2 separate regions of the Homo sapiens genome follow, and region 1 is linked to region 2. Evidence: fine-mapped expression QTL. A gene starts in region 2. The other region holds a variant in brackets. All regions are shown on one strand. Distances are between the middles of the regions. Region 1 overlaps TSGA10IP (testis specific 10 interacting protein). Region 2 holds the start of DRAP1 (DR1 associated protein 1).

What was found. PIP is the estimated chance that this variant, and not a neighbour inherited with it, causes the effect.
Region 1: its variant is fine-mapped to the expression of DRAP1 in whole blood (TOPMed, PIP above 0.99).

What each region holds. Positions count from the first base shown.
Region 1 is chr11:65,952,534-65,957,895 of GRCh38, forward strand. It overlaps TSGA10IP (testis specific 10 interacting protein), which reads left to right. Exons shown (of 8, transcript NM_152762.3): 5 at 1,034-1,204. Among named protein-coding and RNA genes, the nearest start is that of SART1, 6.5 kb to the right of the region's middle. The variant T/C (reference allele first, on the strand shown) is at 2,843.
Region 2 is chr11:65,916,306-65,921,667 of GRCh38, forward strand. It overlaps DRAP1 (DR1 associated protein 1), which reads left to right and starts at 3,121. Exons shown (of 7, transcript NM_006442.4): 1 at 3,121-3,238; 2 at 3,475-3,547; 3 at 3,643-3,736; 4 at 4,038-4,157; 5 at 4,264-4,357; 6 at 4,579-4,667; 7 at 5,025-5,258. The coding sequence starts at 3,197. The coding sequence ends at 5,130. It overlaps C11orf68 (chromosome 11 open reading frame 68), which reads right to left and starts at 2,757. Exons shown (of 2, transcript NM_001135635.2): 1 at 2,605-2,757; 2 at 505-1,913. The coding sequence starts at 2,726. The coding sequence ends at 1,154. RefSeq lists enhancers at 1-154, 1-314, 1,874-2,793, 2,794-3,714 and a silencer at 2,511-3,580.

The sequences.
Region 1 (5,362 bases), 36 kb after region 2:
GACTTCCTGGGCTCAGGTGATTCTCCCACCTTAACCTCCCGAGTAGCTAGGACTACAGGTCTGGTCCACCATGCCTGGCTAATTTTTTGTATGTTCAGTACAGATGGGGTTTAAGGCTGAAGAATGCCATTGTATATATAGACCACCTTTTATACACAATATATACACAATATATACCATTGTGTATATATACCATGTTGCTCAAGCTGGTCTCAAACTCCTGGGCTCAAGCGATCCACCTGCATCAGCCCCAAAGTGCTGGGGTTACAGGTGTGAGCCACCATGCCTGGCCTTTTTTTTTGGCTCAAGATTGCTTTTGCTGTTTGGAGTATTTTGTGGTTCTATATTAATTTAAAATTGTTTTTTCTATTTCTGTGAAAAATGTCATTGGAATTTTGATAGGCTTGCATTGAATCTGTAAATTGCTTTGGATAATATGGACATTTTAACAATATTAATTCTTCCAAAGCACCCTTCATTTCTTTTTTCTTTCTTTCTTTTTTTTTTTTTTTTTGAGATGGAGTTTTGCTCTTGTTGCCCAGGCTGGAGTACAATGGCGTGGTCTCGGCTCACTACAACCTCTGCTTCCCTGGTTCAAACAATTCTCCCACCTCAGCCTACTGAGTGGCTGGGATTACAGGCATATGCCACCACGCCTGGCTAATTTTGGCATTTTTAGTAGAAACAGGGTTTCACCATGATGACCAAGCTGGTCTCAAACTCCTGACCTCAGGTGATCCGCCTGCCTCCACCTCCCAAAGTGCTGGGATTACAGGCATGAACCACCGTGCCTGGCCTGGAAGCAGGAGACTTCTAGAAAGAGTAGGGAAAGGCCTTGAGCTGGGACCGAGGGCTGAGCCTCCAGGGCAGTCTCTGTCATGGACTTCCATGACAAACCCTACTCCCAGGACACTGGCTCTGGACACTGCAGCCCCTCCCCACAGGCTTCCATATTCCCTTATCCAGCCCCTGGCCCTCCGTGAGGCTCCTGCTGCCCGTGAACCTCTCATTCCCCTTCCCTTTCTCACCCAAGGAGCCTGCTGCAGGCCTGGGAGCGGCAGCGGCAGGAGGAGCGGCAGCAGGCCGAGCTGCGGCGGGCCCGGACACAGCATGTACAGCGGCAGGTGGCCCACTGCCTGGCAGCCTACGCACCCAGAGGGAGCCGGGGCCCTGGGGCGGCCCAGCGCAAGCTGGAGGAGCTGAGGTAGGGAGCCTGGGCTTCGGGAGGCCTGGTTGGGAGAGGGCAGGGAGGCCGTGTCAGGTCTCAGTCTACAGGACCGAGGAGCACCAGCCCTCGCCTTCCCTGGGGCTAACCAGGCCACTTCACCGCGTTTCCAGATAAGGACGCTGAGGCATGGGGAGAAGGGGTCTGTCGAAGGCCACCCAGTTAATAATGACAATCTCTGCAGCTGTTGAATGGTCAAGGTTAAAATATTCTACATGTATGATCACACTTTCAAATCTTCATTTTCTGATTTCCAATGCCAGACATGCTTGTTATAAAATTTCAAAGATTACAGAAATAATGCCTGGAGAAGGTGAACAGCCGTGTGACCCCACTCTGGGAGACAACCATTGTTCACAGTCAGCTGAAGAGTCGCGTTTTGTTCTCTTCCTATATTGTGACCATTTTCCTTTTTTTTTTTTTTTGAGACGGAGTCTCGCTCTGTCGCCCAGGCTGGAGTGCAGTGGCGCGATCTCGGCTCACTGCAATCTCCGCCTCCCAGCTTCACGCCATTCTCCTGCCTCAGTCTCCCGAGTAGCTGAGACTACAGGCGCCCGCCACCACGCCCGGCTAATTTTTTTTTTTTTTTGTATTTTTAGTAGAGACGGGGTTTCACCGTGTTAGCCAGGATAGTCTCGATCTCCTGACCTCGTGATCCACCCGCCTCAGCCTCCCAAAGTGCTGGGATTACAGGTGTGAGACACTGCACCTGGCCGTGACCATTTTCCTAATAAGCAGATTTGTGGGCAAACGTTTTTGGACTCCTAACAGGTCCGTGAAGCAGGGAGTATTGCTGCTGGTGGGCCAGGTCAGGTTCTTCCCTTGGCCGCACAAAAGAAAAAGTTTATTGCAAAGCAAAGGCCACCCTGACCAACATGGTGAAACCTCATCTCTACTAAAAATACAAAAAGTAGCCAGGTGCGGTGGCACATACCTGTAATCCTAGCTATTCGGGAGGCTGAGGCAGGAGAATTGCTTGAACCCGGGAGATGGAGGTTGCAGTGAGCCGAAATTGAGCCACTACACTCCAGCCTGGGCGACAGAGCAAAAACTCCATCTCAAAAAAAAAAAAAAAAGCCCACCCTGAGGACTGCTCAGAGGGAGAGACGGCAGCTTGTGCCTTAAGAGGAATTCCTTTTATGGAAGTTGTTTATACCTAGTCACAAAATACTGGTGAGGTCAGGTATGCAAAGGTGGACCTGTGGTGGGCGCATGCGCTCAGCATCTGCATGCTCCAACACGCATCACATGTAACATTAGCATATACAATCTCTACCTAGGGGTGTGTTTTTTTACCATCAAAACGAGGAAAATGTTGCTATAAGCTAAACCTTGAGCCTAGCTGTGTATGCGGAACCCCGAGAAGTCCTTAGCTCCCTCCAAGGCAGGAATTTGTAGCTAATAGCTTCTTGGGCTTTTGGTGCTGATTGGCTGGAGATCGGGGAAGCTACATTATGAATAAGGGGCTTTTGTTTTTTTTTTCCTGGGCTGTGCTAGGTATGAGGGAACTTGTAGCCATCTGGTATCCCCTAAGACTGCTTATCTTGCAAAAGAGTTAGGTACTCGGCTGTACGCCGTGGCTCACACCTGTAATCCCAACACTTTGGGAAGCCGAGG[T/C]AAGTGGATCACCTGAGGTCAGGATTTCGAGACCAGCCTGGCCAACGTAATGAAACCCCGTCTATACTAAAAAATATATATACAAAAATTAGCTGGGCGTAGTGGCGCGCGACTGTAGTCCCAGCTACTTGGGAGGCTGAGGCGGGAGAATCACTTGAACCCGGGAGGCGGAGGTTGCAGTGAGCCGAGACTGCACCATTGCACTCCAGCCTGGGTGACAGAGAAAGACTCCGTTTCAAAAAAAAAAAAAAGAGTTAGGTGCTGATGCACGAGGGCACAGGGGCTGCAGAGCTCCTGCGAAAGGAGCCCCTGGGGCTTCATACAAGGGGAAAAGTCAGTACGGCCCGCTCACCTTACTATCCTACCTTGGTATCTCCACCTGCATAACCCCACCGGTGAGGAACCTGAGGCTCAGAGATCTTCAATAATTTGTCAAAGGTCATGCATGGGCAGCAGAATTGGGTTCCAGCCACGATGCTGCCCTGCCTGAGCACTCAAATCCTCCGCTTTTAGACGAAAGGCACCAGGACCTTCCCCCAAGAGCCCAAACCAATGACACATGTAACACAAATAAATCAAATAAATATGACCAAAACCAGTGCCATTGATTTGAGCACCTCCTGGGTGCAGCGGGCGCAGGGCATCTTTTTCTGCACCCTGTCTCCTTTGGTCCGTGGCAAGTGGGGTGAGGGTCCTGCCCTGCCTTAAGGCCACTGACGGCTCAGCGGGGTTCTTATCACCTACTCTTTGAGGCTCAGTCTTTTTTTTTTTTTTTTTTTGAGACAGAGTTTCGCTCTTGTTGCCCAAGCTGGAGTGCAATGGCGCGATCTCGGCTCACCGCAACCTCTGCCTCCCGGGTTCAAGCAATTCTCCTGCCTCAGCCTTCCGAGTAGCTGGGATTACAGGCATGCGCCTCCACGCCCGGCTAATTTTGTATTTTTAGTACAGACAGGGTTTCTCCATGTTGGTCAGGCTGGTCTTGAACTCCCGACCTCAGCTGATCCGCCCGCCTCAGCCTCCCAAAGTGCTAGGATTACAGGCGTGAGCCACCGCGCCCGGCCGAGGCTCAGTCTTAATCACCCCAATTTTACAGATTTGGAAACAGAGGCTCTGAAAGGTCAAGTGTGTTTTGGGGGACTGCTTGGGCCAATGTTTAGGGGGATCCTTTCTCCTTCCCAATCTTGCTCTGTTGCCCAGGCTGGAGTGCAGTGGTGTGATCTCAGTTCACTGAAACCTCCATCTCCCGGGCTCAAGCAATTCTCCTGCCTCAGCAACCTGAGTAGCTGGGACCACAGGTGCGCGCCACCACACCTGGCTAATTTTTTTGTATTTTTGGTAGAGACAGGGTTTCACCATATTGCCCCAGCTGTCTCAGACTCCTGACCTCAAGTGATCTGGCTGCCTCGGCCTCCCAGAGTTTTGGGATTACAGGCGTGAGCCACCGCGCCCAGCCAAGTGTTTTGTTTTCACAGTGAGGCAGGAAGTGTAAGGTTCAGAACTCCAAGTGGCAGGTGCAGCAAAAAGAGTGATTCAACCTCACTCCTTTTACTTTCTATTTGAGAGGGCTAAGGCATAAGTAGGTATCTCCCATGCAGTCTCTCAGCCATTACAGCCTATGAACTTCGCTGTCTGAGCGGAACAGGAGACTCTGTCCTGCCTAGGAAGGGCAGGCACAAAAGAGGTTGTCCTGTGGGAGGGAGGGATGTGTCTCCTTCCATTCTGAGATGATGGACGGGGCTGACACCCATAGGCACCACTTCCCTTTCTGCTCAGGGCTCCTGTCATTGTTTTTTTGAGACAAAGTCTCGCTCTGTCGCCAGGCTGGAGTACAGTGGTGCAATCTCGCCTCACCATAACCTCCAACTCCCCAGTTCAGACGATTCTCCTGCCTCAGCCTCCCAAGTAGCTGGGATTACAGGCGCACGCCACCACTCCCAGCTAACTTTTGTATTTTTAGTAGAGACAGGGTTTCACCATGTTGGCCAGGATGGTCTCGATCTCCTGACCTCGAGATCTGCCCGCCTCGGCCAGCTCCTGTCACTTCTAACAGAAATAGCATAAAGTATCCAGCAGGAAAAGTGCACACAATATCACAGAAAAGATAGGGACTGCCAGCTCATTTCCCACCTCCCCTTGTAACTGCCATAAATTCCTTCCTAAATGGTGAAAGCCGTTTTTGCAGTAACTTGTGTTCCGGGCCATGGGTTTTCAAGTCCATGTCTTTTTCTCAATGAAGGATGGTTCCTTCCCTGGCACAGGGCCACAGCAAGGGTGGCATGGCCCAGCAAGGCTGAGTTTTTCCACCGGGCCCAGCACAATCGCTGAGGTCCCAGTACAGGTCTTGGGGTCTTGTCTGTGTCTCCCCTCCCCTCCTGTCCTCTTGTCTGCGTCTTCCCTCCCCTCCTGTCCATGGGTGCTGCCTCCACACCTCAAGGCCTCTCTTACATGCTTCACAGATGGATGCCTGGTCCCATGTGGGTGTGGCTCGAAGGTCCCTCTTGCTGCTAGAGTGCTCTCTTC
Region 2 (5,362 bases):
GCATATGAAAGCGCTTTGCAAACTGTCTAGTGGGCCCTATGATGGTCAGGGTGGTAGGAGAGGAGAGTATGAATGGCAGGGCTTCCAGAGAGACTACCTAGGGTTGTGCAGGTTGTTCACTGCACAAGGATGTCTAGCCTAAGGTGCTGAAATCCAGCCCATCCCATCCTCTGCTCCCCAAACCGCGTACCCCGGCCTAGGACTGCTTGGACTTGGTACCTTTCTCTAATATGCACAAATGCACCCTGAGGGCTAGCAGTGGCCCCTTAGACGTTCCTGGAGGGGTCAACCCCTGGAATTATGGGAAATCTCTGAGAAACTGATTACGGATGGAGGGGAAGTGGGGCTGGTTTTGCAGAGGTTCTTAGAGACAGTGCCTAACCTCAGCAGTGAGGCACAACTTATTGCTAGGGGCAGCTATGGGGGCCTGGCCGGGTCAAGGGGGTAGTCTCTCCTGGCCCTGCCCCTCCCTAGCAACGAAAGCAGGTAACCACCAAGACAGTATTTTAAAAAACACTCAAGACACAGACCCAAGCCGGGTTTTATTGAAATGCCAGGAGCAGGCACATGTCAAAGTAGCCAAGGAAGGGGGGACAGTGGTACAGGCTGTGTAAGTTGGCAGGGATGGGCAAGCCTCATGTCCATGGTCCTGGCATCCCCTCTGCCAGGGGATAAGTAGGCACAACTACCCTCCCCTCAAAATGGCATGCTCAGGCCAGTGGGGCCCCTACCCCTGGACCATGAAGGCTCCAAGAAGGGCTGGAAGCACTAAGTTTTCTCTCTCCTGAGGGGGAAGGAAAGAAGGGGAGATGCAGGAGGAAGGGGAGGTATAGCGGGGGATGAGCGTTCCAAGAAGTCTCTCCTTCTAGGTGTCTGCACCCAACTCATGGTGCTGGGCAGTGGAGAGGAGCAGCATTACAAAGGGAGGCTGAAGGCTCATCCCTCAGGGAACCGGAGCCCCCCAGCCTGTGGGGCTTGTGTCAGCCCTGAACAGAGGGCAGAAGTTCAAGGGGACTGAAGATGCAGGTAGTTCCCAAGTGACCTAGGAGTCCCCAGAGCTGGGGGGTGTGGCCTTCATAGGACAAGGAGGAAGACAGGAGGATCCAACCCCAGCATGGAGGGGGGAGTGGGCAGTCTCCCCAATTTGGCCCCCCTAGGTCAGTTCCACGTTGTTGGCACGGTCAAGCACTCGGGAGCCACGGGCACTACCCCCAAGCTGGAAACGGCTCTCATAGAGAGTGGGGCAGAGGTGCCAGCGATTGGCCCGGTAGATGCCCAGGTAGGTGTAGACATCAGGCTTGTAGGTGAGCAGGCACTTAATGCCCGCTGCACGGATGGCTGAATCCGCCTCCAGTACACCCAAGCGGTCCGTGAAGTCGTCCGTGTAAACACAGATGACCTGGCGCCCACCCTCCTTGGCACGTGGGCTCACCTTGGCCACCTGAAGCTGGCCTTCAACCACGGCCCGGGCAATGCCAGCCCAGGCGTGGTCCAGCTTGAAGCCCGGTGCCAGATGCATAAGCCACTTGCCCGAGAGCACGTGGTGGGTGATGGCGAGCTGGCGCAGGGTACCCGGTGTGATGGGCCGCCCACTGGTCTGCAGAGCTTCCCAGGCTGCCTGCAGGCCCTGCACGTCCCCGGAGTTGGGGCTGTAGCCCTGCCCATACACTGCAATCCAGCCCACAGGCTCTGAGTTGGGTGAACCGGGGTCCCCATAGCGGGTAACTTGGGATGGTGGGTACTTGGCCAGCCAGGCATCCAGCTCAGTGGCAGGCGTTGTGCGGGCATCAAACACTAGCCAGGGGTCCATGTCAGCTGCCATGGCCTCTGCAGCCAGGTGCTCGGCGGTGAAGCCATCCTCACGGCCACCTGGAGAGCCCTCCTCTTCCAGCTCCTCACCTGGTTCCATCCTGCTGTGAGGGAACCGAGTCAGGGCAGGGTCTGAGACAATAACTACAGATGCCAGGCACTGGATTAAACTGTGGCCTTGAGTAAGAGTTACTGTCGATGCGCCTCAGTTGCCTCATCTTTACAATGGGATAACAACTGTTCCTGTCCCGTAGATCTGCTATGAAAATTAGATGCCTGAGGAGTCAGCGCTCCAGAAGGGTTGCTGCAGTTATTACTATTCTCCTTGACTTACAGAAAAGGAAACTGAGGCTGAGAAAAAGGACTTGCCCAAGGTCACACCTGCAGTGCGTGGCAGGGCCGAAGGGTGAATCCAGGCGTGGGAGCAACCAGCCCCAGCTACACCTCCCGGCCCTGCCAAGGCCCCCTTTTCCTGGCAGGTATCCGGTGCGCTGGCATTTAATAGAGGAACGCAAAGAAGCGCACGTTCGCGCAGCTCCCGAGGCCGGCTCTGTAAGGCCAGGCCTCCCAGGCAGGCGTTATCGGGCCCACTTACAGACGAGGACGCTGAAGTCCAGAGAGGTTACAGGCCGTTCCGAGGCCAATGGGGCGGTTCCCAGACTCGAACCAGGGCTTGTTAGAGCCTGCAGGAGAGCCAGGCTCCGGCCGTGCCGCGCCCGCCGCCATTAACGCCCACGGGCCCGAGCTGTGCTCCCGCCCCGGCCCTGCCCTGCCCCTCCCGCCGCCCGCAGTCACCTCCGGCCTTCGCTGCGTTCGACGCCGGCCCAGCCCCGGGCCCGGCTCCGCTCCTGCCGTGGCTCCGCGCCACCGCCACCGCGCCCCACCCCCGCCACGGCCGCCGCCGCCGCCGCCGCCATCTTAGCGCCGCGCCACCTCAACAACAACTTTATAGACAGGCGCAGCCACAGGGCGGAGCCGCGGGCCTCAGCGGCCGCAGCGGCCGCGCTGTGGGGCGGGGCCGGCAGGGGAAGGGGCGGGGCCGACGGGGAGGTGCTGACTCGGGGGCGGGGCCATCGCGGGAACCCCGGGAGGGGCGGGCCGCGGGGGGCGGGGCCAACGTTCGCTCTTCTGGCCTTGGGGGCGGGCGGGAGCGGCGGTCCAGACTGGGGAGGGACGCGCACCGGCCAGGAGGCTTCAAGAGGAGGGCACTAGGGCCCTGCGAGCGGCGTCTTAACCGGCGGCGCTAGGACTCCGCGGGAAACGGCGGGGGCGGAGCGGGCGGCACCAGGACCCAGGGGAACCGCGACGGGCGGGCGGCGAGCAGGCCCGGGAGCCGGGAGGCTGCGGGCGGCGGCGCTGGACCCGACGCGGCGAGAGAGGCCCCGAGATGCCGAGCAAGAAGAAGAAGTACAACGCGCGGTTCCCGCCGGTGAGCACGTGGCAGAGCCCGGCAGGAGTGGGCCCGGCTCCCGGGTGGCTTGGGCCCAGTTCCCGCTGGGCAGGCGGGCGCGCCGCGGTGTTCGGGGGCCTGGACGCCCCGCCCCCTCCATGCCCTCCCCGCGTCCGTGTCCCCCGCCCCCTTTCTCCGGGGATGCCCCTTCCTCCCCCAGCACCCCCTTAGGGGACGGTGGCGACGGGGTCTGAACTCTGCTCCCCCACCCGCAGGCGCGGATCAAGAAGATCATGCAGACGGACGAAGAGATTGGGAAGGTGGCGGCGGCGGTGCCTGTCATCATCTGTATCCTGCCGGGGGCGGACCGGGTCGAGGGGCGTGGGGGAGGGAGGCAGCGGGTCGCCCTCTCCTGCCCCGGAGTTCTCCTTGACGCTCCTCAGCCCGGGCGCTCGAGCTCTTCCTAGAGTCGCTGTTGAAGAAGGCCTGCCAGGTGACCCAGTCGCGGAACGCGAAGACCATGACCACATCCCACCTGTGAGCGGCGAGGAGCCGGGAGGGGCCGGCGGGTTTGGCGCGGGGAGTTCACACACTGAGGAAGGCAGAGCCTGGGTGGCGAGGGAGGTGGGCGGCAGCCGGGACACCAGCAAGGCCACAGACTGGCAGAGGAGAGGCTGGGCTTCCAGGCAGAGGGAGCCACCTGAGTAAAGCAGGGCAGGCCCGGGAGCGGAGATCGGCCCGGGCTCCAGCCTGACATCTGGGGCCCCTTGCTGCCACCCACTGCGGGTTTGGGTGTCTGGGCCCCTCTTGAGTGCCAGCCCCTCCTCACCTCTTCCAGGAAGCAGTGCATCGAGCTGGAGCAGCAGTTTGACTTCTTGAAGGACCTGGTGGCATCTGTTCCCGACATGCAGGGGGACGGGGAAGACAACCACATGGATGGGGACAAGGGCGCCCGCAGGTGGGGCCAGGGCCTGGCATACAGTGGGGAAGGCCAAGGCCACAGGGCTTGGGGGTGGCCAAGGAGTAGGGAGCACTCCGGGCAGATGGACTGTACCTTCCCAAAGGGGCCGGAAGCCAGGCAGCGGCGGCCGGAAGAACGGTGGGATGGGAACGAAAAGCAAGGACAAGAAGCTGTCCGGGACAGACTCGGAGCAGGAGGTGAGTGAGGCCCCAGCCCTTCGCCCTGCCCTTGGTGATGGGACAGGCAGCCTCGCCCCAGGCTGAACTGGCAGGAGGCCAGCTCTCATCCTTTTCTGCAACCTGTTTGCTCACTGGTTTATTTGTAAATTGGGGCTATGAGGGTCTACTGCTGTCCCTGCCACTCCCAGTGATGGGTTCGTGTCTTTTCTTGTCAACTCTGACCTCTGCGGTGCTCACAGGATGAATCTGAGGACACAGATACTGATGGGGAAGAGGAGACATCACAACCCCCACCCCAGGCCAGCCACCCCTCTGCCCACTTTCAGAGGTGAGCAGCCCAGAGGCATGGGAGGGTGCTGGCAGACTCCCCAGAGCCAACTTACCCCTCTTGTTCTCCCTGGCCCCTTGGTCTTGTTGATTGTGGCAGATTTGTGGGGTGGAAGGAGAATAACTGAGGAGGGCTTGAAGGCAGGAGACTGTTCTCCCGAAAGATCCTGCTCCACCCTGCCAGGGCCCGTGGGTGGGGCCTGGGCCTGCCCTGCGTGAGCTGCCCTGGGCCTTGGCCGCATGGATCTGGAGGGTGGTGGTGGGAGGGTCAGATGGGGGAGGGAGGGTCTTGGCAGCTGCCCCTGTGGAGGGCACGGTGGGGCTCAGGCCTGACTCTCTCCTGCCTTCTGCCCTGCAGCCCCCCGACACCCTTCCTGCCCTTCGCCTCTACTCTGCCTTTGCCCCCAGCGCCCCCGGGCCCCTCAGCACCTGATGAAGAGGACGAAGAAGATTACGACTCCTAGCGCCTTCTGCCCCCCAGACCATAGCCCCTTTTAGTTGGTTTTAGTTGCTCTGGGGGGAGGAGAGAAGGTAGAGCTGTTCTTAAATTTATTAAAAAAAAAAATAAAAGGGAATCTCAGTGTCTGTTCCAGGCTCTGCGCAGGACGTCATGGTTGCCATCCCATCCACCCACCTGCCTTCCCCACATGAAACTGGGAGCTGGGGCCGGGTGCGGTGGCTCACGCCTGTAATCCC